2 linked regions of the Homo sapiens genome follow. The protein of the gene in region 2 binds, or shares a complex with, the protein of the main gene of each other region. Each region holds a gene or a part of one and is shown on either strand. Other genes may lie near its edges. A codon is read from its position in the direction of its gene.

Region 1 (15,103 bases), on a different chromosome or scaffold from region 2:
TGTTGTGCCTGTGGCCTCTGCAGATGGAAGGTCTGAGTTCTGTGAATGAAACACAGCAATTCGGAAAGGAAACCCCACCGCTCACTGCAGTTCAATGTGAAGTGGAGTACTCCTCCCCACACTTACAGAAGTAGGACGATGTCCTTAAAGTTAAAAAAAAAAAAAGTCATACAGCCATAAATATCAATGGCTGAATAGTTTGTAGTACTTATTTCATTCTCGAGTTGTAACAAAGGTTGGTTTGAGCTGGCTTCTTAAAAAGCATGTGGCATTTCCAAGTCCTCACACCTCCCTTTATGGGCTCAGCAGTGGAGACTGGTGGGGAAGGTCCTGCGTACATGACTTTGTCACTTCCAGAAGGTGAAGCCCACAGTGTGGAGTTTCCGGGGCTGTGAGCAAGGTTCCTGTGTGTAGCTGATCATTCTCCCCCAGCACTGCAAAGCCGCTGTTACAAACTGGCCTCCCACCACTCAAGGCACACAGCACAGGTTGGGCTCCTGGATAATGAAAACATTTGTCTTAATAGCACAGAGGTCAAATCTTGTCCTGGGATTCCAATGTCAACAGACTCCTCTGTGATTCTTCTCTTACATTTTATTTTTATTTTTATTTTTATTTTTATTTTTATTTTTATTTTGATGCAGAGTCTCACTCTGTCATCCAGGCTGGAGTGCAGTGCCATGATCTCAGCTTACTGCAACCTCCGGCTCCCAGGTTCAAGCGATCCTCCTGCCTTAGCCTCCTGAGTAGCTGGGATCACAGGCACCCACCACCACACCTGGTTAATTTTTGTATTTTTAGTAGAGATGGGGTTTTATCATGTTTTCCAGGCTGGTCTCGAACTCCTGGCCTCAATTGATTCACCAGCCTCGGCCTCCCAAAGTTCTGGGATTACAGGCGTGAGCCACTGCGCCCGGCCTCTTCTTTACATTTTAGATGTAAAGGTATCAGGCTCCTCTCTTGGTCATGTCTGCACGGAATCGAGGTCTGTACCTACCGCCCTCTCTGAAAAACACAGGCCAGAGGTCCATACACACACTGCATTAAGAATTGATTCTTCTTGAACCTTGTGCTCTTCAAGGGATGTTTATTATATGTTAACTCTTCTCTCAGAAGATGGTCTGGATGAGAAGGGACTCTGACTTACACTCAAACCTGAATGGGCTCCGAATTTGGCTCTGGGTGGGAATTGGGCTGTAAGCACTATGTGGGCTGGGCCTCATTTCCACACCTCTCGCCTACCACAGGGCAATAAATATCTGCTAAAAGAAGTCAGACTGGTCTCCGGGAAGAGATAACTCTGCTCCTTCTGTGAATTCTTCAGCTGTACTGCAGACATTACTTGTGCTGGGAGATGGCGGTTGCTGGGGAAAAAACCTGAGAAACCCTAGTTCATATCCTCCCTCTGACACTTCTTAGAGGTATGCCTTTAGGGGGCGCCAATGGCTCCAGATATCTCTTAAGTATATTTCTATTTTGTTTCAAAGTATATGAGGTGGCTGCCAAAGGCAGTAAGAATACAGGGAGGTAAAAAAAAAAAAAAAAAAAAAGAAGAATCCGGGTGTGGTGGCTCACACCTGTAGTCCCAATGCTTTGGGAGGCCATGGTGGGACAATCGTTTGAGGTCAGGAGTTCAAGATCGTCCTGGACAACATAGTGAGACTTTATCTCCACAAAAAAATACAAGAATTAGTCAAGCATGGTGATGCATGCCTGTAGTCCCTGTAGTACAGGAGGCTGAGGCGGGAGGATCACTTGAGCCTGGGAGGTTGAGGCTGGGCTCCAAAGAGAGGCCTTCAGGCAGAGGCTCTGGGCTCGTCTCCTCCTGCACCATCGTCTCCCCACAGGATCAAGCTGCTGTCTGGGAGATGCACCATCCTGAGCAGGACACTCCCTAGTTTCCCTGCTGACACTCGTAAACGGAACCATCTACAACCACTTGCTGTTTGTTACTTTTGACTCTTGGATTCCGATTTCTAGTTTCCACTCTTCTTGCCTAAAATCCAATGCAAATCATCTCAGCAAACATCAAATGAAAAGAAAAAAAAAATAAAAAAATTCATTGCTTATTCCCTTATTGAAAGACATCTGATTCAACAGTATCTGGGCCAGGAACCAACAACTCAATGTTACAAGATTTTGTACCACTAAGTAAATGGGTTTAGTAAAGTTATGAGACATTAGCTTGCATCCAAGCTGGGGATGAGGGGCCCCCAGAAAGTTTTCTTTCCAAGCTATCACCCAAGTTCCCAAATACACACCGCTTTAGGCCAAGTTCAGATCACAGAATCCCAGTTCTGAGAAGCTGCACTTGGTCCTCACCCAGCCCTTCCTACTGTTAGAACAAACAAGAAGGAAATTACTCCATCAGCTTTCACATGCTGGAGAAAATGGCTGAAGGTTTGAAGTCTGGCCTTCTGAGGAAATATTTCACAGAGCTTCTTACTTTTTAAAATTTCTAAAATCTCTCCCTCCTCAGAATTAAGGAACCATACCACTCTCTCTAGGTCACCTGAGGCACGGGAGCTACCTGAGCGAGGTTTATGTAAAGACTTGAAGGTTTGAGAAAGTCCAAAGCAGTTTTTGGTCCAAAGCTGATGTGACTTTGTACCTCTGAGTTATTTGCGACCACAGCCTGGGTATGAATGGGAAACACACTCTGCAGCAGTGTAGGATGGTGCTGTGGACTCTGGACTCAAGCTGAATTCGCTTATTACCAACGCAGGCTTGAGCAAATCACTTACATGTGCGGTGCCTGTTTTCTCATCTGTGAAATGGGGATCATGGTAGTCCTACTTTATAGGACTGTTATGAGCATTAAATAAATTAATGCTTAAAATAGTGGCACTTATAAGCACCAAATAACTATTTAATCAGTACTATTCAATACTGTTATAATAAAAACTAATTTCAGGCCAGGCATGGAGGCTCACGCCTGTAATCCCAACACTTTGGGAGGCCAAGGCCAGTGGATCACTTGAGCTCAGGAGTTCGAGACCAGCCTGGCCAACATGGAGAAACCCCATCTCTACAAAAAAATATAAAAATTAGCCAGGCGTGGTGGCACATGCCTGTAGTCCCAGCAACTCAGTAGGCTGAGGAAAAAGAATGACTTGAACTCAGGAGGTGGAGGTTGCAGTGAGCTGAGATCACGCCACTGCACTCTAGCCTGGACAACAGAGCGAGACACTATCTCAAAAAAACAAACAAAAAAACCCAACTAAACTAATTTCATACTATTTAGAATTTATATGGAAGTAAAAATAAAACTTAATTTCATACTGTTTTGCATTTATTTTGATGTAAAAATATTGTTATTTAATAATAACAACTATTAGTGTAATTGAGAACTTTCTCGAGATTTTCAGACTATATGAAGATTGGAAGGACATATTTAATTCAAAGCATGAGTGGCCATATCAGAGAAGCATTTCTACTGAGGAACGTGGGGTCTGTTCCTAATTCATCAGCCGTGGTCTAGGGACATCAGTCCAGAGGCTTGGGTTCTAAATGTCTCCTTTGCTTCTCAGCTGACAGACGGCACATTGCTTCAGTTCTCGGCATCTCAGTTTCATTACTTGCTAAATTCAGATTACAATAGCTGCCCTGACCACCCCTCAAGGTCTCTGGGAACTTCAAATGAGACTATGTGTGGGAAAACACTTAGAAAATCATAAAGTTAATCATCTAGCTCTATCCCCAGCTCTCAGAAACAGGCCTTGCCTCAGCTCCCTGTACTTTTCTGATGAGGACACCACGCACCAGTGACAAGAACAGGTCCCCTCCCGCTTCCCTACGCTCAGGCAGAGCTCCCCAGCCCTGCTGTTGGGCCTGAGTCTCCTGTCCACCTCGTCCAGTTCCCCATCCTGGGTCTGACCTACCCTTACCCCGAGATGATGAAGGAAAGAGACAGTGACTTTGCCCTTTGGCCAAGCCCACACTTCCTGCATTCCCTCTGATTCCTTCTGAAAGGCCAGCCAGGGCTTCTGACAGGACCCCATTGTGTGGGTGGAATGGGAGGGCCCCTGCCAGTTCAGGAAAGGTGGTGCCGCCTCAGGGAGGCCCAAGTCCTTGTCAGCAGCTCCACAAAAGTGCAAGTGTCATCACATTCCTGCTCAGGCCTCAAAGTGCAAAACATCCACAAAGCCCCAGGAAAAAAAGTGTCCAAGACAGGCAAGCAAGTGCAATTTGCACAGTGGAGAAAGCCTCACATGGACACCCGAAAAGCCATCTGACCAGGCAGCTTCAGACAGCTGCTGGGCCTATTCCTAAAAGGTTCTTTTTTTTTTTTTTTTTTGAGACATAATCTCACTCTGTCACCCAGGTTGGAGTGCAGTGGCGTGATCTTGGCTCACTGCAATCTCCGCTTCATAGGCTCAAGTGATTCTCATGCCTCAGCCTCCCAAGTAGCTGCCACCAGGCCCGGCTAACTTTTGTATTTTTAGTAGAGACGGGGTTTCACCATGTCGGCCAGGCTAGTCTCGAACTCCTGACCTCAAGTGATCCGCCCGCCTCTGCCTCCCAAAGTGCTGGGATTACACATGTGAGCCACTGCGCCCGGCCCCTATTCCTCCCAAAGGATTCTAAAGAAGTTGTATTGCCCACAAAGCCTTCTGTGAAGCATAATCATGACATCAGGAAGTTCCCCTTTTCCTCTCCAAGACCTGTTCTGCAGACCACATCAACCCCCTCACGGGTGTTCTGTGCAGACACAGGACTGGTCACAAGACCAAGGTCTAGCCCTCCATCCCTGGGGCTGCTAGGCCTGTTTGGCTCCCACTCCGTGAGTGAGGCCAAGGTCTTGCATTCAGTTCCTGGGTGGTCTGTTTGTTTTGCCTGGATTCATACCTAGAAACTGAATTTCTAACTTCAGTTCCCAGCTAGAGCCCTTGAAAAGTCATGTCAGTGGTCAGGACAGGAAATAGGTAGGGATGGGTCAAGGGCCACGTGCCCCACTGCAAGAAAACACTCCCAGCATATCTGGGCCTGATGGGCTGAGGGGAGCATCTCTAAAGGAAAGAAGAACCTTGGCATCTTCCAAGACTGGGACTCTAAGAATCCATAAAACATCCCCTCTCAGGAATGCCCTGGTGAAAAGCGAGCTGTCAGATGGGGAGCAGAGGGCACCAAGGGCTCACATTTCAGGAGTAGAGTACTCAGGAGCTCTCATCCTCATGCCTTCCCTCAGGCGACTGCAAAAGTCCTCATCCATTTGTACTCCTGGGTATGGAGACCCACCTGCGGGAGACAATGTGGAAAACACAGGGCCTGTTATGGCTTAAGGGTACAAAAGACCAAGAGGGGACAATTCAGTGTTTCTTTCCTCCCTTTAAAGCTACGTTTTAGTAATAAATTCCCAGGGATTACAACAGATCTCAACATACCGTACAACACACAGAGAAGCTCAGCAAATCCTTGCTAAGGACACCCGCTTGGTTGGGTGGTCACATGGTGCGGGGCACCTGGTGCTCACAGGCTATTCCTATGGCTACTTCTGCCTGTGTGGTCAGAGGAAGGGGTGTCGTCTGAAGGGTCCTTGCCTTCTCCCCACAAGTAACTAAAGAAGTCCCATCATTAGAGACTCATCCTTTGGGTTAGTGAGCTTTTGTTTTTTTTGAAGAGACGGGTCTCCCTCTGTCACCAGGCTGGAGTGTGGTGGCATGATCTTAGCTCACTGCAGCCTCGAACTCCTGGGCTCAAGCAATCCTCCCACCTCAGCCTCCCGAGCAGCTGGGACTCCAGGTGCTCACCATCACCACACTTGGCTTGGGCTTCTTTTTAAAAAGCCAATAGACTTGGGATAGGCTACATAGGAATCATTCACACTTGAGTGGGAATGACTTTAATTCACTTTCTTGCAACCTTCCTATAGTACCAGGGCTCTAGGAGTTGTGACAGGCCTGAGGGAAGGGGGGCTTTGCGCTCCAGGGCTGGGCTGAATGGAGTGGAATGGGGTGGGGGCTGCCCGTGGCCAGGAGTCTGCAGACCTAAGGGCGCCAGAGAGGCCTAGGCTTTGCCTTCTGCCAGCTTTACTGCCCAGGATTCCCCTGCAACCTTTCCTTTTGGGGGGATTCTTGCCAGGGCTGGGGGTGGCAAGGCCTTCTAATGCACTCTTGCTCTAGCCCTGCAGCCTCATCTACCTCAGCATTTGTTTGTGTGCATTTTCTAGTGATTACTGCTGGTAGGAAGCAGCTGGGAGGCGTGCAGTGCTGGCACCGTGTCATCGCAGGACCACTGCAGCCGCCAAGCTGCTTTCAAAGACTGGAAGCAACAGGTGCCTGTCATCGAAAGCAGGGGAATGATTTTCACACATTACAGGAAACCAGGGATGTTACTGGGTGACTTTTATTTGCTGTGAAAGGCAAATTTTTGGCAAAGCCCAAAAGACTCTTGGCGAGAACTTGAGTTTTAGAGGCCTCAGATCATCACTGTGTGTCTGCAAGCAGATGTGGGCTCTGCACGCATCTGTGTGCTTTGAACAGGACTTCCAGCCACCCATAGTGGATGTTATTGCAAGCAGAATAAATACAACCAGTGTTGTTTATTGCTTATCCTGTATAAACCAGTGTCCAGAGCCATATCATGTGTTCATATCAGAGGCACTGGAAAGGTCTCCTGTTTCTAACAACACCTTCCTCGCTGGGGCAGCTGAGCTTGTTATGGCCTTTCCTAGGAAGAAATTCTGAGGTGGTGGGAGACGCGGGGAGGGAAGCGGTAAGGGCATTAGAGGTGTGGGTGTTGAGGAATTGGAAAAGGACAGAATTGGGCAAAGTACAGAAAAAGTACTTTGCTTCAGACTTTATACCCTTGTTCATGATCGTATAAAGCCCTTTTACATGACCTTGTTCTGACCTTGTTCATGATCATATAAAGCCCTTTTACAGTAGAGGGCAGACATGCGTACGCCATTACTCATCTGAGAGTCTACATGGGCCCATTACACTTTAAGAGTTTTTTGTTACAGTAGGTTCTAATCTAAAGGCTGTCTAACCAAAGGACATTCAGCAGAAGATGCAGACATTTATTTCTGGGCTGTTTGATTTCTTCCTTCTCCCAAATTTACCTAAGGAGAAGATTTCCCACAGCAATACTCCGTAAGACCACACGTCGCTCTTGGTGCTGTAGATTTTGTCAAAGATAGATTCAGGAGCCATCCATTTCAGAGGAAGTCGAGTCTAGAAGAGGGCAAGGGGGCCTTGAGCAGAAGGGCATGAAAACAAAGCACATTCAACCCGAGTGTCCATGGGGTCACCTCCCAGATAACATACGGCCTATAAATCATTTCCGAGAGCAGCTCTGGTTTCCTAACATAGAGAACACCATAGTATGCAGTGTTACGCTAAAAGAGGGAGCTAGAGTGCTATACTGAGTCCCATGAAGGCAGTATATGTTCAGTAAGCCCCTCTGATGTGTTCAGCATGTCCTTATCTGCATAGCTCTGTGAGAAATCCTCCCCCACAAAGAAAGCCTGCACTCCACAGGGACACACTCAGGGCTTGGAAAAGGAAAAGAGTGATCTGAATTTGAAGATATCCTGAAAACTGGTGGTGGTTTCCAAAAATTTTTCCAAAGGAGGATTTTGAAAGCATTCCTATGCAAAAAGACAAGATTTCCAAAGTCACTGAATAGGGAGAGTGTGCAAAAGCATCAGAAAGAAGAGAAGAAGGAAAGAAGTCAGTGTTGAAAGAGAATATACAGTTAGTTTTCAAACATGTAGACAAATCTTCCTCTCTTTCAGATAGCAGGAATCCCAGTGAGTTAGGCCTCACCACTTTAGATGATGGGGATTGATGGGAGGTATGGGATAAAGGAGAGACAAGGAGAAAGGAAGTGGGAGGGGCAGGGAGGCTGACTCAGATACAGACGAACAGAAAGGAGGGGAGGACTAACATGAAGGTTGGTGCCATCTCTCCAGACCAGGGCCCCAAGGAAAGTCTGTTTTCCTTTATTTTTATTTTTTTATTTTTACAAAGGATCAATGTGAAGTCATATGTTTTCCTTCTATACAACAGATTCTGGTGCAGTGGCTCTCGAAGTATGGTCCTGGGACATGCTGTGTCAGCACCTTCTAGAACAAACATGTCCAATTCCTGGCCCGCGGGCCACATGTGGCCCAGGACAGCTTTGAATGCAGCCCGACACAAATTCGTAAACTTTCTTAAAACATGATGAGATTTGTTTGCATTTTTTTTTTTTTTTAGCTCATCAGCTATTGTTAGTGTTAGTGTATTTTATGTGTGGCCCAAGATAATTCTTCTTCTTCCAATGTGGCCCAGGAAAGCCAAAAGATTGGACACCCCTGGTCTAGAAACTGGTTAGAAATGCAAATTCTCAGGCTCCACCCAAGAGTTACTGACTCAGAAACTCTGGGGGGTGGAAGGCTTGTTAGGCCAGCACACTGTAGCGTAACAAGCCTTCTAGGTGATATGTATGTTCAATTAAGCTGGGAACCACTACTGTAACTCATTGGCGCCCAGACATAAGCTTAACCCTCAGGGTATATAGGCTGAGGGTTAAGGAGAAGGGAGGACATGGGAGGTCATCCACAAAAGTGAAAAATAACACTATGTCTAAAAACAAGCAGGGAAGAGAAGCCAGTACGAGCCAGCGGGGAGATGCTAGGCATGGAAGGCCATGGGAGGTAAACAGTCTCCTCCATAGTCAGCTACTGCTGACGGTCTTCCCCGCCCTTTCCTGAGACAGATACACCTGCTGAATCAATCATCTGGGTTTATTTGAGGGAAAGAGTCCAGGCTGTTCTTTTCAGTGGTACAAGGAATTCCCTCAGGATTCAAAGGAAGGTAATGCTAAGGTCTCACCCAGGCCCCACCAAACACTTCTCAGGTTAGCAAGTCTCACGCAGCGCTGCCCAAAGGACAGGTGGGAGGCCAGGCATTAGGGAAGAGCAGAAGCAGGAGACAGTGGCCTTTCTGAGCCTTACACAAGGGCTCTCTGGGATGCCGCTCATCTGGACTGTTTGTCTTCACAGAAAGCCAATGATGGTTTTCAGGGACTACAGCTGAGGAAGTGTAAATATTTACCAAGTCTGTGGTTTAAAAGTGATAGGACACACATGAGTCAAATAAACATCAAACTGACTTACATCTCCTTTTCTCACATAATCGGGGTTCTTATAAATATCCCGGGCAAGGCCAAAATCACAAATCTTCACCACGTTGTTCTCAGATAAAAGAATGTTTCTCGCTGCCAGGTCCCGATGAATGCACTATAATAAAACAGTTGCATAATCAATGCATTTCCTTAACCTAACCAACTAATTTCCTACACCTGTCAGTGTCATTATCTTAATTTGGGAATCCATTTCACATGCTGTGAAGGGAGCACCTCTCGGTGCACACAGAGTTACCATAAACATGAAGAGCCTCTCTACAAATACAGGTCCCCAAGCCCTCAAAGTCAAGAAATGGTCTGAATCCACTGGGCTACTATTTGATCAGCGAAGCTGGTTATCTAAGATTTACCAGTGGGCAAACTTTCCCCACAGTCTTTTATCCTGAGCTGCCAAGATGAGATCTTTCTCCAGCTGCAGTTTTGTGGGAGGGCCCTATATGGCTATATTAATAGTAGCTCTCCTATGAAGTCATGTCTTCTGAGATTTGGGCCAGATTTGAAAATATGCCAGAGGATACTGTGGAGAGCCGATGCCAGGTTTGTCTAGTCTGAAACCTGTGAGTTTTCCCCAGAATTAAGTTCTATCCACTGGTATCCATGACTCCTCATTCTCAAAACTCCTCATATCAAGGCAAATTAAGGCACTTGCAGTGGTGTTTGTTCTACATTTAAGAACATAGGTATCAGCAAATACTAGGAAAAATGAATTTATAGCAAAGGTGTGTGTCCAGCCCTGGCAGAGAAGAAAAACAGTAAACAGCAAGACTGACCTTTCTGGAAGACAGGAACTCCATGCCTCTGGCCACTTGAAAACTGTAAGAAATCAGATCTTCCATAGTGATGGGCTCCTTGTAGAAACCGTCAGAATCTGGAAAGCATTAGAACCGTAACTGTTTGTAATGGCTCTTGTTATCCCACCAAATCCCAGTTTATTGGAACAATGTTAGCAAAACATAAAACAAACCAACAAGTAGATCAGAGTTCATTTTTAAGAGTATTTGAGTTTCAACATGAACACCAGAGATTTTTCCAGGCCTCCAGCCCACTTTATCCAAGCATGGGGGCAGGGGGATGATCCATTAAGATGAAAATCCCTGAGGGGAGAAAACGGTACAGTTCCCTGTCAAAATTAGTAACTCTGTAAATTATCTTAATTCAAATCTTATCTCCTCAGGACATTACCATTCGAGTCTCCCACGGATGTTTATTAGAGTGATAAATAAGAAAAAAATTTCAGAGATGCATAGTATGTTGTAAAAATATCTCAGCGCGTAGGACAGGAAGGAATTAATACCTACCCTCCTCTTCCTCAACATCACTCAGACTTTTATCTTCCTGAAAGCCGGAGCTCGCAAAGCTTTCGCTGCTGGTGACGCTATCTAGTCTTGGTTTCTTGCCTTGTTCCAGGCCTGGCTCCATTTTTTCTTTCTTAGGCTCCATGTGTAGTGCTGCATCCTTTGAAGAGACCGAAAAGGACCCAGGTGAAAAGGAGCTCCAGCACAGCAGTGGGAAACCAGTCCCTCAACTGGCAATCGCCTGATGAGAAATGAGAGCGTTTCACTTCTCAAAATGGATCGTGAACTAGCACAGGGGCCCTACGGTGTCCAGGAGCCTGACTACCTCTGGAGTTGCAGAGTCTATTGTGCTCTTGCCTGGGCTTCTAGACAGCATCTTAGATCAGATAAAAAAAAAAAATTAAGAGTGGTGGGTATTTACTGAATGCTTACTCTGTGTGAGCTGGTATATTAAAAGCTTTAGGTACATTTCTTGTTTAGTGTTTCCAACAATTTTACGAAGTAGTTCTTATTTATACATGGAGAAACAGGTTCAGAGAAGTAAAGTAATCAAATTCACATGCAGCTAATAAATAGCAAAGCTGGCCGGGCACAGTGGCTCACGCCTGTAATCCCAGCACTTTGGGAGGCCGAGCCAGGTGAATCACGTGAGGTCGGGAGTTTGAGATCAGCCTGACCAATATGGAGAAACCCCGTCTCTACTGAAAATACAAAATTAGCCGGGCATGGTGGTGCATGCCTGTAATCCCAGCTACTCAGGAGGCTGAGGCAGGAGAATTGCTTGAACCCAGGAGGTGGAGGTTGCAGTGAGCCGAGATCACGCCATTGCACTCTAGCCTGGCCAACGAGAGCAAAACTCCATCTCAAAAAAAAAAAAAAAAGCAAAGCTTGAACCCAGGATTGGTCGATGCCCACATCTGTGCCCTTAACCACTTTTCCATGCCACACGCCATCTTGTGAAGGATGACATCACTGAGAGGAAAGGATCCTCAGTGTGCTTGGTGCTTCACTCTGTAATCCCTAGGAGGAGTTATAAGAGAAGGCTATAGTTACCAATTTCTCAGGTTTCTTTGGGGAAGGAGGGAACATGGACATTGCTTTTTTTCTCTTCCATTTAAACAAAGATACAGTTTGATCCTAACAAGGGTAGCAATGGCCTTTCACCCTGGACTGCACATCCAAGCCCTGGTTCATTTGGCTCTTCCATTAATCATGCGATCTTGGGCAAGTCACCTTACTTTTCTGAGTTTAATTATCCTCTTCTGAAAAGCTCTATTATACTATTATTTTATGATTCATAGGAAAGGAGTTGTCAGTTCTGGGTGTTCATGGGAAACCAGAAAAGATTTTTATTGCCTTTTGTAATTCATCTAGTAACTATGACACTCTAAAACCTAGCACTTTCAGTGGCTTTATAACAAGACCATGTTTGTAGCCTAGATTCTGCTAGACAGCAATACTGAGGCAGAAGCAGAGAGGGACTGGAGTTCAGTGGTGTCCCTTGATCCATTTGCATGGTGTGGCAGTTCTAGGATTAACCCGCGTACCCCATCCTTCCTGGGCTTTTCTAGAAATGTCACAAAGCAAGAGTGATCCCTCCACTAGAGGGCACAGTGGGAGCAAGCAGAGCACTGGGAGAAAGCTTCAGGAGGGACAGCCCTAACCTAGTCTAAAAGCCAAAAGGGCACCAAGGTTCCCAGCCCCTGAAAAGAGACCTTCCGGGGTTGCAGAGGGAGGCAGGCCTCAGAGTGAATACCCACTGCCATTGCAGGTAACCCACCTGAGGGCAGGTAAAGACTTTCACTATTTGTTATTGTGTTTCCACAATGCAGTTATATTGGATTCTGTTCAGTTGGGGACTGGAATTTTATTTTTCACAAGATCCTTTGTGGGACAGAAGGCATCAGAGAAAGCGCTGGCAATAGCATGGGGAGAAAAATGCTCCACAGGCTCACTCAGGGCTCTGCATGTGAAAACTCTCCCTGGACAGCCTTCTTCCCCACGGCACCCAAAAGTCACAGCCTAGGCATGTCTCCAAGGACCAAAACTCAGGCTCTCTCACTCCCTTCCTGACTCCCAATCAATTGTATATTCAGCTTTGCTTATCAGTACCACTTTTGTTAAATAAAGGTAATTTACTGAACTCTTGGGACTCTGGCAGAATATAGTGAATTTATTACAAACCATATTTAAGGATCCCAGTTAATTTATTTGGAAAATGAAGTATTCCATTTTCAATTTAGCCTTTTGGTTTTGCCTTTCCTTTACCTTTATCTTCCAAATATGAAAGACAGCCATGGATTTTCCACAAAAACACTAAGCTCCACCAAGTTGCACAGGGAGGCAAATCATTAAATATAGCCAGAGAAGGAAGCAAACTCTTCAAAACAAAGGACGCACAAACCCAAACGTTCCATCCTGCCCAGGTCCCTAGGGTATTCTGCTGGCTTAGCTCTTCCTGAAGCCAGTCCAAAATTTCAGTACTAAGGGGAATTTGTACTGCCCTCAGCCCAAGGCACCACTTTCCACTTTTTCTTATGCTTTTTTCACCTCATTTAGTGTGGTGCACAGAAAAGGCAGTGGAGGAGGAGTCAAGAGAGCTGAGTTCTTTCACCTTCTGACTTCACCTCATGGTAGGTGTGTGTCCTTAAGCGAATCACTTGACTTCTCTGAACGCATCTGCAGCCTGCGAGTGTGAACCAACTGATCACAAAGATCCCTTTCAGTTTCAAGATTCTAATTATTAGGCCGGGCACGGTGGCTCACACCTGTAATCCCAGCACTTTGTGAGGCCGAGGCAGGCGGATCACCTGAGGTCAGGAGTTTGACCAGCCTGGCCAACATGGTGAAACTCCGTCTCTACCAAAATATTCAAAAATTAGCTGGGCGTTGTGGCGGGCTCCTGTAATCCCAGCTACTTGGGAGGGTAGAGGCAGGAGGATCACTTGAACCCAGGAAACGGAGGTTGCAGTGAGCTGAGATCACACCACTGCACTCCAGCCTGACTGACAGAGAGAGAAACTCTGTCTCAAAAAAAAAAAAAAAAAAAAAAGGTTCTTATTATTAGAGGACCTGACTTAAACCTGGGGAAAATGATGTTCTTGCATATATTGCCGGTCCGGTAGAACATCTCTGTCTTTAATTAGATCAAAGTTTGAGGGATGAGAAAATTGGCCAGCTGTCCAGTGGTTCTTATTTGTGTGTGAAGATTCTTGCCCACATTATAAAGATGGGCATCATTCTTGGATTTCAGACATTTTATCCACCATGTAGATCAGTGGTACGAAGTTGGACTCACCCAATTTTTCTATCTTAGTAGGTCAATGATGTTGATGATGATGATGACAGTGGTGGTGACAGTGATGATTAACATTTATTGAATGTTTGACTGAGAGATTTTTATTCTCTCAACAATCCCATCAGCTGGATTCTATTATAAGCTTCATTTAATAAACGAGGGAACTGAAACAGACAGGTTGAGTAATTTGCATTCCCAGATTTCATGAGAAGTAGAGACAGGATTTGAATCCAGGAAGTCTGATTCCAGAGTCTCAATGTTTAACCACCACACTACATGGGTTCATCACCAGTGTTGCTGATTACTGGTTAATAATGTTGAATCACTGTCCCCTGGACTTCTTCAGCTCAGAGAAGGACACAGTATTGGTGCCATATGTCACACTGGCAAAGTTTTAGTAAATTATTTCTCCTCCATTCAATAATCTCTCTCTCTCTTTTTTTTTTTTTTTTTTTTTTTGAGACGGAGTCTCACTCTGTTGCCCAGGCTGGAGTGTAGTGGCTTGATCTCGGCTCACTGCAACCTCAGCCTCCCAGGCTCAAGCGATTCTCCTGCCTCAGCCTCCCTAGTAGCTGGGATTACAGGCGCGGGCCACCACGCCTGGCTAATTTTTGTATTTTTAGTAGAGACGGGTTTTCACCATGCTGGCCAGGCTGGTTTCGAACTCCTGACCTCACAAGATCCACCTGCCTCAGCCCCCAAAGTTCTGGGATTACAGGCGTAAGCCACCGTGCCTGGCCCAATAATCTCTTTTAAACCTTGTTTGCCCTTAGGTCTTGGGTCCACATGTTCCTTTTACTACACAGCTTTTATTTAATAAGGCTGGTTCAGAGTATATGTAGGGATGACATGGGTAGTGAGGGTGTCAGGAAGTAGGGGAAAGGGCAGTGGAAAAGAAAGATAATGATTTTTGGCCCTGGCCACATCATTGGTCTACTGCTGATTGTCAAGTCACTCAGTTGATTTAGCCTTAGTCAAAATCTAACCTAATAAATGGAGACAATTATATTAACTATTATCTTCCTTAAAGAAATAAGTGACTTGTGTATGTATGTTTGCGTGTATGTACACATGCACACATATATAGGGGGAGAAAGAGAGAAAGTTATTGTTAGATATTTAGATAAGTGGCTAGTAGATTTACTCTCCAATTATGGCTGCATACGCACACAGGGATCAAATGATTCTCTGTGCTATCCACACTAGAGTGTAACAGATTATCAGGGGAAAAAACATGAAAAAAGGAGAAGAAGCAGAGATTGAGTTTTAAGTTTAATCATTAACAACACAATACAGGTTTCTCTTGCTTTATGTTGTTACAGACTAAATGAAAACTCATTGCTATCTTTAAAAACCTCCAACTTTTGAAATCCTTACC
Region 2 (11,306 bases):
GCTGCCCCGTTCAGACCATGGATCCTGAGGTGACCTTGCTGCTGCAGTGCCCTGGCGGGGGCCTGCCCCAGGAGCAGATACAGGCCGAGCTGAGCCCCGCCCATGACCGTCGCCCACTGCCAGGTGGGGACGAGGCCATCACTGCCATCTGGGAGACCCGGCTAAAGGCCCAACCCTGGCTCTTCGACGCCCCCAAGTTCCGCCTGCACTCAGCCACCCTGGCGCCTATTGGCTCTCGGGGGCCACAGCTGCTCCTGCGCCTGGGCCTTACTTCCTACCGAGACTTCCTGGGCACCAACTGGTCCAGCTCAGCTGCCTGGCTGCGACAGCAGGGTGCCACCGACTGGGGTGACACGCAGGCCTATCTGGCGGACCCACTGGGGGTGGGCGCTGCACTAGCCACAGCCGATGACTTCCTTGTCTTCCTGCGCCGCTCCCGGCAGGTGGCTGAGGCCCCTGGGCTGGTGGACGTACCTGGTGGGCACCCTGAGCCTCAGGTGAGATTCCAGGCTGGGCACAAAGACCCAGACAGCTCAAGGGAGCTGCAGCTCTCCACCCTCCCAATCCTCCCAGCTTTGGTTTCCTCATTCCTTAAAGGGAAAATTGGCCTGGTATTTCTCTGGAAGTTTGCTCAGGGCAGTCCACCTGCCTCCCCACTGACCCCTGCCCCAGTCCTGTGAGAAACTAGAAAACACGGGAGGAAAGATTGGGCACAGGAAGAAGATGCCCTACTCCACCCCTGCCCCCTGTGTATCTCCTTTGAAGCTGGACCTCTGGTTGTCTGTCAGGGAAAGGACACCAGACTCAGGATCACTAACTCTCTTACACTGTGCCACATCAGACCCTCAAGGCCAGCAGGTATAGGCTTGCTGGTCCTGAGATGGGGCAGGGGGAAGAGGTGGGGAGCAGGGGCTGAGCCTGACCTCTCACAGGCCCTGTGCCCTGGTGGCAGCCCCCAGCACCAGGACCTCGCTGGGCAGCTGGTGGTACATGAACTCTTTTCCAGTGTCCTTCAGGAGATCTGTGATGAGGTGAGTGAGGTTGACCTGGACAGGGTGGTAGACATGAAGGGAGGGGGTAGGACTTGCCAGAATTCTACAGGTCTGGGCTGGCAGGAGGCCTGCAGGCATCTGGCCAGCAATGAGGGAAGAAGTTGGCTTTGCAGCTATACATACTTGGAGTGGAATTCTAGCCCTCAGTACCCTCTGCCTTGGATTCTTCTTCTTTTCTTTTTTCTTTCTTTTTTTTTTTTTAGACAGAGTCTCGCTCTGTTGCCCAGGCTGGAATGCAGTGGCACGATCTCTGCTCACTGCAAGCTCCACCTCCCGGGTTCACGCCATTCTCCTACCTCAGCCTCCTGAGTAGCTGGGACTACAGGCATCCGCCACCATGCCTGGCTAATTTTTTTTGTATTTTTAGTAGAGATGGGGTTTCACCTTGTTAGCCAGGATGGTCTTGATCTCCTGACCTCGTGATCTGCCTGCCTCAGCCTCCAAAAGTGCTGGGATTACAGGTGTGAGCCACTGCACCAGGCCGGATTCTTCTTCTTTTTTTTTTTTTTCTTTTTGAGACAGAGTCTTGCTCTGTTGCCCAGGCTAGTGCAGTGGTGGCATATCGGCTCACTGCAACCTTCGCCTCCTGGGTTCAAGTGATTCTCATGCCTTGCCCCGCCAAGGATTCTTCTTTTCAATGGAAACAATGATAAATATCTTGCCTACTCCCCAAGTCTGTTGAAAAAGGAGTAAGTGGCCGGGCGCCGTGGCTCATGCCTGTAATCCCAGCACTTTGGGAGGCTGAGGTGGGCAGATCACAAGGTCAGGAGATCAAGACCATCCTGGCTAACACGGTGAAACCCTGACTTTACTAAAAATACCAAAAGTTAGCCGGGCGTGGTGGCGGGCACCTGTAGTCCCAGCTACTCAGGAGGCTGAGGCAGGAGAATGGCGTGAACCCGGGAGGCGGAGGTTGCAGTGAGCCGAAATCGCGCCACTGCACTTCAGCCTGGGCGACAAAGCGAGACTCCGTCTCAAAAAAAAGAAAAAGGAGTAAGTGTGGCAGGGTGTGGTGGCTCACACCTGTAATCCCAGCACTTTGGGAGGCCAAGGCCAGCGGATCACCTGAGGTCAGGAGTTCGAGACCAGCCTGGCCAACATGGAGAAACCCCATCTCTACTAAAAATACAAAAAATTAGCCAGGCGTTGTGGCGTGCACCTGTAATCCCAGCTACTCAGGAGGCTGAGGCAGGAGAATCACTTTAACCTGGGAGGCAGAGGTTGCAGTGAGCTGAGATCGTGCCACTGTACTCCAGCCTGGGCGACAGAGCGAGACTCCATCTCAAAAAAAGAAAAAAAGAAAAAGGAGTAAGTGGGAGTCCCAGTCACTAAATTGACTTCTCTTGGGTGACCTTGGGCAACGTGTTCAATCTCTCTGGTTTTGGTGTACCTGTAAAACAAACATGCCCATCATCTGACATTCTGTAATGCTGGGTCCTTGATCTACAAGCTATAAAATGCTGTACACAGGTAACAGGCGGTTTTTCATTGAGACGGGCAGGGATGTGGGCAGTGGCATTGATAGGTGGGACCTCCCCCCACCCCACCCTCCACCGCAGGTGAACCTGCCGCTGCTCACCCTGAGCCAGCCCCTGCTGTTGGGCATCGCCCGAAATGAGACCAGTGCTGGCCGAGCCAGTGCCGAGTTCTATGTCCAGTGAGTAGGCTCGGGTACATGATCCTGGGTCTTGGGAAGGTGGGTGGTGAGGAGTGGGCTGAGGCAGCTGTGGCTCCACAGGTACCCCGCAGGGGCTGGTCACCCACTAAGCCACCCTTGTGTTCTTGTCCAGGTGCAGCCTGACTTCTGAGCAGGTGAGGAAGCACTACCTGAGTGGGGGACCCGAGGCCCACGAGTCTACAGGAATCTTCTTTGTGGAGACACAGGTGCAGAGTGACAAACCATCTTGCTTGGAGGCCAGGGCTGGGGCCTGCAGAGGCCTGGCAATGCATATCTTGTAGGGGAGGTGTTGGCTGGGTCACAATTCCCTCCAGAGTCACAAGATTTGCCCTCAGTGCAAGGGAAAGGTCCAGGGACATGTTCAGCCCCTTAACATGCCTCCCTAAGGACAGTGCAGAGGTCTCTGAGGCTCAGGAATTCTGGGCACAGCCCTGGCAGGAGAAGTGGCAAGCTTGAATGCCTGGGTCTCGTTGTCTCCCCACAGAACGTGCAGAGATTGCTCGAGACGGAGATGTGGGCTGAACTCTGCCCCTCGGCCAAAGGCGCCATCATCCTCTACAACCGGGTTCAGGGAAGTCCCACTGGAGCGGCCCTAGGGTCCCCAGCCCTACTCCCGCCGCTCTGAAAATAATAAACGACTTTATTCTTGGATTCCGTTGGCATCTGCTATTTCTGTAACAGAGAGGAGCAATGGGCCCTGAGTGTGTAAGGCAGGACAAGTGACTTGGGAAAAAAAAAAAAAAAAACCCGCCCAGCCTGTGTCCCCCTCTGCAAGCAGGGGATAAGAACTGTGCCTCCCTTTCTTTGCTGGCTCCAGAGAGGCTCCGGGGCGGAAGCAGCTCCGTAAGATATACCTCGCTGCAGAGGGGAGCAACAGCGGAACGGAGACACGGTGGCCGGGCCGAAAACGTCACAAAGCCGCAGAGAGCGGGCTCTGTCCCGCCCGCTCCCCAGGTGGGCGCCCGCGCCTGTCCAGCGAGTCCGCAGGCTGGGGGACCGGAGGCACCAAAGGCCAATAGACATGTAGGGGCGGGGTCTCCACCGATTTTTTTTTTTTTCCTGACAGGTGGACGTGGTCTTGGCATCCACGCCAATGAGAATGTGAGGGCGGGGCCTGAATAGACGCAGGAAATGGCGACGGCCGCGGGTCTGTGAGCAGCGGGGGCGGGGCCTGGTTGTGGCCCCTCCTTCTCCCGTCCCCAAGTTCCCTGGGTGGGAACGGGGTCTTGGGGTCCCTGGCTGGGTGGCCAGACCCCGAAGCCAGCGCTGGGAAGGGCTGCGGATGCCCGGGTCAGAGGAAGGGGCAGGTCCAAGGACACGCGGGTCTGGTCCTGGGCAAGAACCGCCCCCTCTCCGGGCCTGCTTCAGTCTTCCTTTGCAGAACAACGGGCCAGGCCCCTTCCCTCTGCCCCCGGGTGCTTGAAGTCTAGCCCCATCCTGGTCCAATGCGCTCTTGGTAGCCTCCTTTCCCAGCTGCCCGCCCGCCGCCATGCCGCCCTTACTGCCCCTGCGCCTGTGCCGGCTGTGGCCCCGCAACCCTCCCTCCCGGCTCCTCGGAGCGGCCGCCGGGCAGCGGTGAGTTGGGCGCGGGGGGCCGGCCCGGTTGTTCAATGGGTTTCTGTTTGCCCTACGTGCTGAGTTAGTTGTGGTCTCTACTCCGTGTCAGGAGGCTCCCAGGTTTGTCTCAGGTAACCCTCGCCTTCCCTGCTGAGGATCAGAGATAGAGAAGACCCCCAAGGTCATACACCGATTTAAGCGGCAGAGGAGGAAGTTTGAGTCCAGGTCAAACCCAACGCTCTTACCACAGCTCTAGTGGTTTCCAAGCATCGCTGTATCACTGTGCATAACCCTCTGTGGGGGGTGGGAGATGGGGAGGTGTCGGGTACAAAATCCAGATTCCTGGGCTCTGCTCTGGAGATTCTGAACTGGAGGAATCAATTGGGTGGGGGTCAGGAATCAGTTTCTTTCTCTTTTTCCTTTTTTTTTTTTTTTTTTGAGATGGAGTTTCGCTCGTTGCCCAGGCTGGAGTGCAATGGAGCAATCTCGGCTCACCACAACCTCCGCCTCCCGGGTTCAAGCGATTCTCCTGCCTCAGCCTCCCGAGTAGCTGGGATTACGGGCATGCACCACCACGCCCGGCTAATTTTGTATTTTTAGGAGAGACAGGGTTTCTCCATGTTAGTCAGGCTGGTCTTGAACTCCCGACCTCAGGTGATCCGCCCTCCTCGGCCTCCCAAAATGCTGGATTACAGGCGTGAGCCACCGCGCCTGTCCAGGAATCAGTTTTTTCCAACAAGTTTTTGGACTCCACTTTGAGAAATCCTGACCTGCACTATGCCTGAAACACTCCAAAGGGGGTGCTGATCTGGAGACAGATCTGTCCTGGGACCTGTTTCAGCCCTGTCAGCTCCTGGTGGCTGAGTTGAAGGGTGTGGCCCAGAAGGCAGGGCAGAGCTAGCTTCTGGGTTCCTTCAGCCCCTGCAAGGTTTGGGACTCTGTCCACAGGTCCAGACCCAGTACTTATTATGAACTGTTGGGGGTGCATCCTGGTGCCAGCACTGAGGAAGTTAAACGAGCTTTCTTCTCCAAGTCCAAAGAGGTACCCGTACCCCTGAGGTGGGGAGGGGGAGCAGGAACTTTGAGCCAGTGGGGGTGTGCTTCAAATTCCCAGGAGTAGACCAGCATCTCTGGCGGGTGCCACATTTTTTCAGCCCTCATAGGGAGTGGCAGGTGCTCAATGGTAGGGGAAAGGCTGTGGGCAGGAGCCAGGGGTCCTGTCTGATGGGCTGGGCTTGGTTTTCTTGACCTGCCTGCCTGCTCTTGAGAAACCTGGACCAGGGCATATGGTGAATGCAGGGGGCTGGCAGGTGGGGAGGGCTTGAACACAGGAGGAAGCAGGAGTCCATGCTCTCTGGCCTTCTGAGGAGTGGGCAGGCCTGAGTGAGGGTCACTGACCAGGCAGGGCCTCTGGGTATGACTGGAGCCCTGGTGGGTGGATGTCATCAGCATGGGTCCTGGGGAGGGACAGGCAAAGGGAGATAAGGGGAGTCCTGCCCCACCCCAGCTGCACCCAGACCGGGACCCTGGGAACCCAAGCCTGCACAGCCGCTTTGTGGAGCTGAGCGAGGCATACCGTGTGCTCAGCCGTGAGCAGAGCCGCCGCAGCTATGATGACCAGCTCCGCTCAGGTAGTCCCCCAAAGTCTCCACGAACCACAGTCCATGACAAGTCTGCCCACCAAACACACAGGTACAGTAATCCTGCCCTCAGCTTGCCCCACCCCCAGGTCTCTTGGGTAGTCTCATTTCCACAATGTCCCTTCCTCTGCCTCCCAGCAGCTCCTGGACACCCCCCAACGCACAGTACTGGTCCCAGTTTCACAGCGTGAGGCCACAGGGGCCCCAGTTGAGGCAGCAGCAACACAAACAAAACAAACAAGTGCTGGGGTACTGCCTCCTCCTCATGCTGGCGGGCATGGGCCTGCACTACATTGCCTTCAGGTGATGCCTGTTCTCCCCGGGGTGATGGGCAGAGGGCAGGAGGGTGGGTGAATTCCAGTGTGGTCAGCCAGTCCTCCACAGCACCTCGTGGCCCGTACTCTTGTGTCTCTCAAGCTAAGAGCTGCTTGAAGTTGGTCTCTGGAGCCTCTCCTTACTTATTAAAGGCAGCGCTGCACCAAGAGCTAACGTTGTCATTTACAGTTTTTCATATTTCGAATGTAAATCTTTCATGCTGGCTGCCAGGAAGGGATTGAGCCAAACAAAATCAAGCACAAGCAGCAAATGCAGCACAGCTCATTCATTTGGCAGTAGGCATCTCCCTGCCACTCTCACGCGTGCCACGGAGCTGATTCTCTTTATTCTCTTTTTTTCTTTTTTTTTTCTTTGAGATGGAGTCTCACTCTGTTGCCCAGGCTGCAGTGCAGTGGCGCAATCTCGGCTCACTGCAACCCCACCTCTGCCTCCCAGGTTCAAGCAATTCTTCTGTCTCAGCCTCCCGAGTAGCTGGGACTACAGGCGTCCACCACCACACCCGGCTAGTTGTTTTGTATTTTTAGTAGAGATGGGGTTTCACCATATTGGCCAGGCTGGTCTCAAACTCCTGACCTCAGGTGATCCACCCGCCTCAGCCTCCCAAAGTACTGGGATTACAGGTGAGAGCTACCGCGCCTGGCCACAAAGCCGATTTTCTATAGCAGATACCTAAAGGCCAGTGCCCACTGCTAGCAGCCTGCCTAGTTCAGTGATGGAGTTAGACGCATACCCTTTCTAGTCTTCTGGGAGGAGCACCCCCATGTCCACAGCTGCTGTCACACCTCAAAGTGACCAGGGACTTCGGATGCCATTGGACCCTAGACAAGCCAGGGCCACTCTGAGCCCTCCCTATCTATCACAGGAAGGGTTAGACTGAGGTTCCTAACCCTGTGTAAGGGTAAAAAGCTGTGAGGCCCCTAGAGTGGGGTGGAAGGGGGCAGGACTTCAGGGACAGCAGGAATTGGATTCCCAGGGTTAATTGTGACCCATTGCAGGAAGGTGAAGCAGATGCACCTTAACTTCATGGATGAAAAGGATCGGATCATCACAGCCTTCTACAACGAAGCCCGGGCACGGGCCAGGTCTGTCCCTGCTCTATTCTGCTCCCTGCTCCCTGTCCAGGAACCACACTTCGGGATCCCTATCCCAACCACCCAGGTGCCCTCTCCTCCAGGGCCAACAGAGGCATCCTTCAGCAGGAGCGACAACGGCTAGGGCAGCGGCAGCCGCCACCATCCGAGCCAACCCAAGGCCCCGAGATCGTGCCCCGGGGCGCCGGCCCCTGAGGGGCTCACCTGGATGGGGCCTGCAGTGCGTTCCCGCTTTGCTTCCTTCCCTGGACGGCCCGCTCCCCGAAACGCGCGCAATAAAGTGATTCGCAGAGCTCGTGTCCGGCTCCCTCCTTAAGGCCCGACGCCCCCGGCCCCGGCCTCGCCAAGGGGCAGCGCCCCGCCCTCCGGGTAGTGGCGGCGGCGACTGGGGAGCCCAGCCTCCTGGGCGGTGCGTCCCCTTTCCCCTGCCGCGGCGGGAGGCGGGAGGGGGTGTGTGGAGGAGGCGGGCCCCGCCGACGGCCTCGCCCCCCCACCCCGCCGCCCCGCCCCCGCCCCACGGGCCGGTGGGGAGCGCGTGTCTGGGTCACATGAGCCGCCTGCCCGCCAGCCCGGGCCCAGCCCCCCGCCGCCCCCGCCGTCCCCGCCGCCGCTGCCCGCCGCCACCGGCCGCCCGCCCGCCCGGCTCCTCCGGCCGCCTCCGCTGCGCTGCGCTGCGCTGCCTGCACCCAGGGCTCGGGAGGGGGCCGCGGAGGAGTCGCCCCCCGCGCCCGGCCCCCGCCCGCCGCGCCCGGGCCCGCGCCATGGGGCTCTGGCTGTCGCCGCCCCCCGCGCCGCCGGGCTAGGGCGATGCGGGCGCCCCCGGCGGGCGGCCCCGGCGGGCACCATGAGCCCTCTGCTCCGCCGCCTGCTGCTCGCCGCACTCCTGCAGCTGGCCCCCGCCCAGGTACGTGCGGCCCGACAGCGCGCCCGCCCGCCCGCCGTGCCCTCTCTCAAGGTTGGCGGAAGTGAGGAGGCGACCCGCGGCCTCGGCCGAGGGGATCTGCGGGGTCCGGCCTTGGACGCGGGCGTCTCGGGGGCCCGGCGCGTGCATCCCCTGGGAGGTGCCCCTCCCCGCTGGCCCGCCAGCCCCAGTCTGGGGCCACTCCTCCGCCCCACCCCGTCCCCTGGGCACCGCCGGGGGCGGGGCTCCCTCGGTGCCTGCAGGACCTGCTTCGGTGGGCACTGTGCGCGCTCCTGATCTGCATGCAGCCCCCAAACATGCTCGGCTCCGCGGCCTGGAGATTTGGCGCGGCCACCAGAGCACCTGTTGCGTTTTGGGCCAGGGCAGGTCCCGGGTGGCCAGGAGAGGACAGGTAAAGCTAGAGCAGTGGCCGCAGGAACAGAGCAATCTGGAAAGATGTCAGAGAGGTGGTGAAGCCTACTGATGCAAGGGCAAAGCCCCAGGGACGGTGACAGGGCCACACCCTCCTAAAGTGTACCTTGGGTACAGGTCTTTTCTCTCCCACAGGCCCCTGTCTCCCAGCCTGATGCCCCTGGCCACCAGAGGAAAGGTAATACTTACAAAAACTCGGCACTAGCCAGCACTAAGAGGGTTTGTCATGGGCCCTGATTCCAGGTGTCCATCATCTTGTGTAACTCCCCTAGAAGATTCAAACTATTATTCTACCCATTTCACAGAGGAGGAAATTGAGGCAGTGGGGTTACTGGGATCTGGATAAACAGGGCAGGGGAAGACAGGTTGTGAGGGCAGAGTGGGGAGGGCTAGTGGAGGGTGGCTGTGACTTGGGGACTGGGGAGGACAGATGCTGGGAGCAGCTGCAGGAAAACCAGTGAGGACTTAACCCCTACCGGTCTGCTCCCAGTGGTGTCATGGATAGATGTGTATACTCGCGCTACCTGCCAGCCCCGGGAGGTGGTGGTGCCCTTGACTGTGGAGCTCATGGGCACCGTGGCCAAACAGCTGGTGCCCAGCTGCGTGACTGTGCAGCGCTGTGGTGGCTGCTGCCCTGACGATGGCCTGGAGTGTGTGCCCACTGGGCAGCACCAAGTCCGGATGCAGGTACTGGGCAGGTGGGGCAACGGGCAGGGGATGCAGGTACTGGGCAGGTGGGGCAGCGGGCAGGGTGGATGCTGGCTGGCTCTGGGGCTGGGGCAGCCTGGAGACTGATGCACAGGAGACAGGGTTGGGGGGAGGGCTGGTGGCCAGCCTCCCGGCTGTTGGGTGAGCTTTTCTCCCTTCAGTCTTAGAGCATCCCCTTTCTCTCTCTCCCTCACTGTCCCCCCTGTTCTTCTCCTGAGCACAGATCCTCATGATCCGGTACCCGAGCAGTCAGCTGGGGGAGATGTCCCTGGAAGAACACAGCCAGTGTGAATGCAGGTGCCAGCCAGGCCCAACTTCTGAGCTCGCAGAGGCCAGGCTTGGGGGGTGCTGGGTATGGTGGTCCACAGAACTGGGGACCAGGTTCCTAAGAGTAGAACCAAGGGGCCGGGCGTGGTAGCTCACGCCTGTAATCCCAGCACTTTGGGAGGCCGAGGCGGGCGGATCATGAGGTCAGGAGATCGAGACCATCCTGGCTAACATGGTAAAAACCTGTCTCTACTAAAAAAATACAAAAAATTAGCCGGGCGTGGTGGCGGGCACCTGTAGTCCCAGCTACTCCGGAGGCTGAGGCAGGAGAATGGCATGAACCTGGGAGGCGTAGCTTGCAGTGAGCCAAGATCGTGCCACTGCATTCCAGCCTGGGCGACAGAGCAAGACTCTGCCACAAAAAAAAAAAAAAAAAAAAAAAAAAAAGAGTAGAGCCAAGGGTAGGCCTTGGATCTGGGGCAACAAAGTAGGATGCTTGGGCCGGGGGTAGTGGCTCACACCTATAATCCCAGCACTTTGGGAGGCCCAGGCAGGCAGATCACCTGAGGTAAGGCGTTTGAGACCAGCCTGGCCAACATGGTGAAACCCCATCTCTACTAAAAAAAAATACAAAAATTAGCCGCGCATGGTGGCAGGTGCCTGTAATCCCAGCTACTTGGGAGGCTGAGACAAGAGAATAGCTTGAACCTGGGAGGCGGAGGTTGCAGTGAGCCGAGACCACGCCACTGCACTCCAGCCTGGGCAAGAAGAGGGAAACACAGTCTCAAAGAGAGAGAGAGAGAGAGAGAGAGAGAGAGAGAGAGAGTAGGATGCTGGGATTTCCTGATCTTCCTCTTGTTTGTCTGTGTCTGTCTATCTTACTTTTCAGACCTAAAAAAAAGGACAGTGCTGTGAAGCCAGACAGGTGAGTCTTTTGGACTCCAGCTGAGTAGGGGTATGGGGAGTACAAGTGAGTCCAGAAGCTGTTGCTCCTCTTTCTCCTCCCACCCGTCCCCCACTTTCCCTTTTCCTCTGCTCCCCAAGCCTGTGTTCTCTGCCCCGACCCCAGCTCTAGGGAAGACTCTTCCTTCCCACCCCAGACATGTCGCTTCTCCTCCCTAGGGCTGCCACTCCCCACCACCGTCCCCAGCCCCGTTCTGTTCCGGGCTGGGACTCTGCCCCCGGAGCACCCTCCCCAGCTGACATCACCCATCCCACTCCAGCCCCAGGCCCCTCTGCCCACGCTGCACCCAGCACCACCAGCGCCCTGACCCCCGGACCTGCCGCTGCCGCTGCCGACGCCGCAGCTTCCTCCGTTGCCAAGGGCGGGGCTTAGAGCTCAACCCAGACACCTGCAGGTGAGGCGTCTGTGGGGTGGTGTTTGTTTGGGAAGGCACCAAGGCCCTGTCCTGGAGCAGGTCCAGGGTGAGCCTGCCAGTAGGAGGAGGGCCAGGGAAGGGGAAACTGTTGAATGTGTTGAACAAATATTTACCAAACAGCTGCTGGCACCTGGAGCTGTATAAGCAAGTCCAACATTCTAACTCAGGAGTCAGATACAGGAGGGACAATGCCAGCAGAGGATGTCAAGGGCTGTGGTGAGGGGTACCTGGCCTCGTCTTTCAGAGGTCAGAGATCTCTTGGAGG

What was found.
Region 1: the proteins of VEGFB (region 2) and FLT1 are in contact, whole or in part, in a crystal structure (PDB 2XAC), measured with the Homo sapiens proteins. Residues at the interface, in NP_003368.1 of Homo sapiens: Ser37 (codon at 9,183), Trp38 (codon at 9,186), Ile39 (codon at 9,189), Tyr42 (codon at 9,198), Thr43 (codon at 9,201), Thr46 (codon at 9,210), Cys47 (codon at 9,213), Gln48 (codon at 9,216), Pro83 (codon at 9,321), Asp84 (codon at 9,324), Asp85 (codon at 9,327), Gly86 (codon at 9,330), Leu87 (codon at 9,333), Cys124 (codon at 9,688), Arg125 (codon at 9,691), Pro126 (codon at 10,553); in NP_002010.2 of Homo sapiens: Tyr139, Glu141, Pro143, Phe172, Pro173, Tyr199, Ile202, Gly203, Leu204, Asn219, Leu221, Arg224, Thr226.

The regions. Positions count from the first base shown.
Region 1 is NC_000013.11:28,312,360-28,327,462, forward strand, and holds part of FLT1 (vascular endothelial growth factor receptor 1 isoform 1 precursor), read right to left. Parts: coding exon 15,103-15,103; intron 10,588-15,102; coding exon 10,431-10,587; intron 10,001-10,430; coding exon 9,903-10,000; intron 9,227-9,902; coding exon 9,104-9,226; intron 7,176-9,103; coding exon 7,064-7,175; intron 6,560-7,063; exon of another isoform or gene 6,170-6,559; intron 5,239-6,169; coding exon 5,139-5,238; intron 1,422-5,138; exon of another isoform or gene 1,248-1,421; intron 489-1,247; exon of another isoform or gene 402-488; intron 1-401. UniProt on the Homo sapiens protein: Tyrosine-protein kinase that acts as a cell-surface receptor for VEGFA, VEGFB and PGF, and plays an essential role in the development of embryonic vasculature, the regulation of angiogenesis, cell survival, cell migration, macrophage function, chemotaxis, and cancer cell invasion.
Region 2 is NC_000011.10:64,226,636-64,237,941, forward strand, and holds the start of VEGFB (vascular endothelial growth factor B isoform VEGFB-186 precursor), read left to right. Parts: upstream 1-7,948; 5' UTR 7,949-8,198; coding exon 8,199-8,258; intron 8,259-8,822; coding exon 8,823-8,865; intron 8,866-9,177; coding exon 9,178-9,374; intron 9,375-9,618; coding exon 9,619-9,692; intron 9,693-10,551; coding exon 10,552-10,587; intron 10,588-10,784; coding exon 10,785-10,998; coding exon of another isoform or gene 10,999-11,020; intron 11,021-11,306. Other genes in the region: uridine diphosphate glucose pyrophosphatase NUDT22, read left to right, coding at 1-497, 766-858, 933-1,031, 2,612-2,709, 2,843-2,936, 3,215-3,355; DNAJC4 (dnaJ homolog subfamily C member 4), read left to right, coding at 4,220-4,305, 5,236-5,329, 5,795-5,979, 6,066-6,230, 7,259-7,478. UniProt on the Homo sapiens protein: Growth factor for endothelial cells. VEGF-B167 binds heparin and neuropilin-1 whereas the binding to neuropilin-1 of VEGF-B186 is regulated by proteolysis.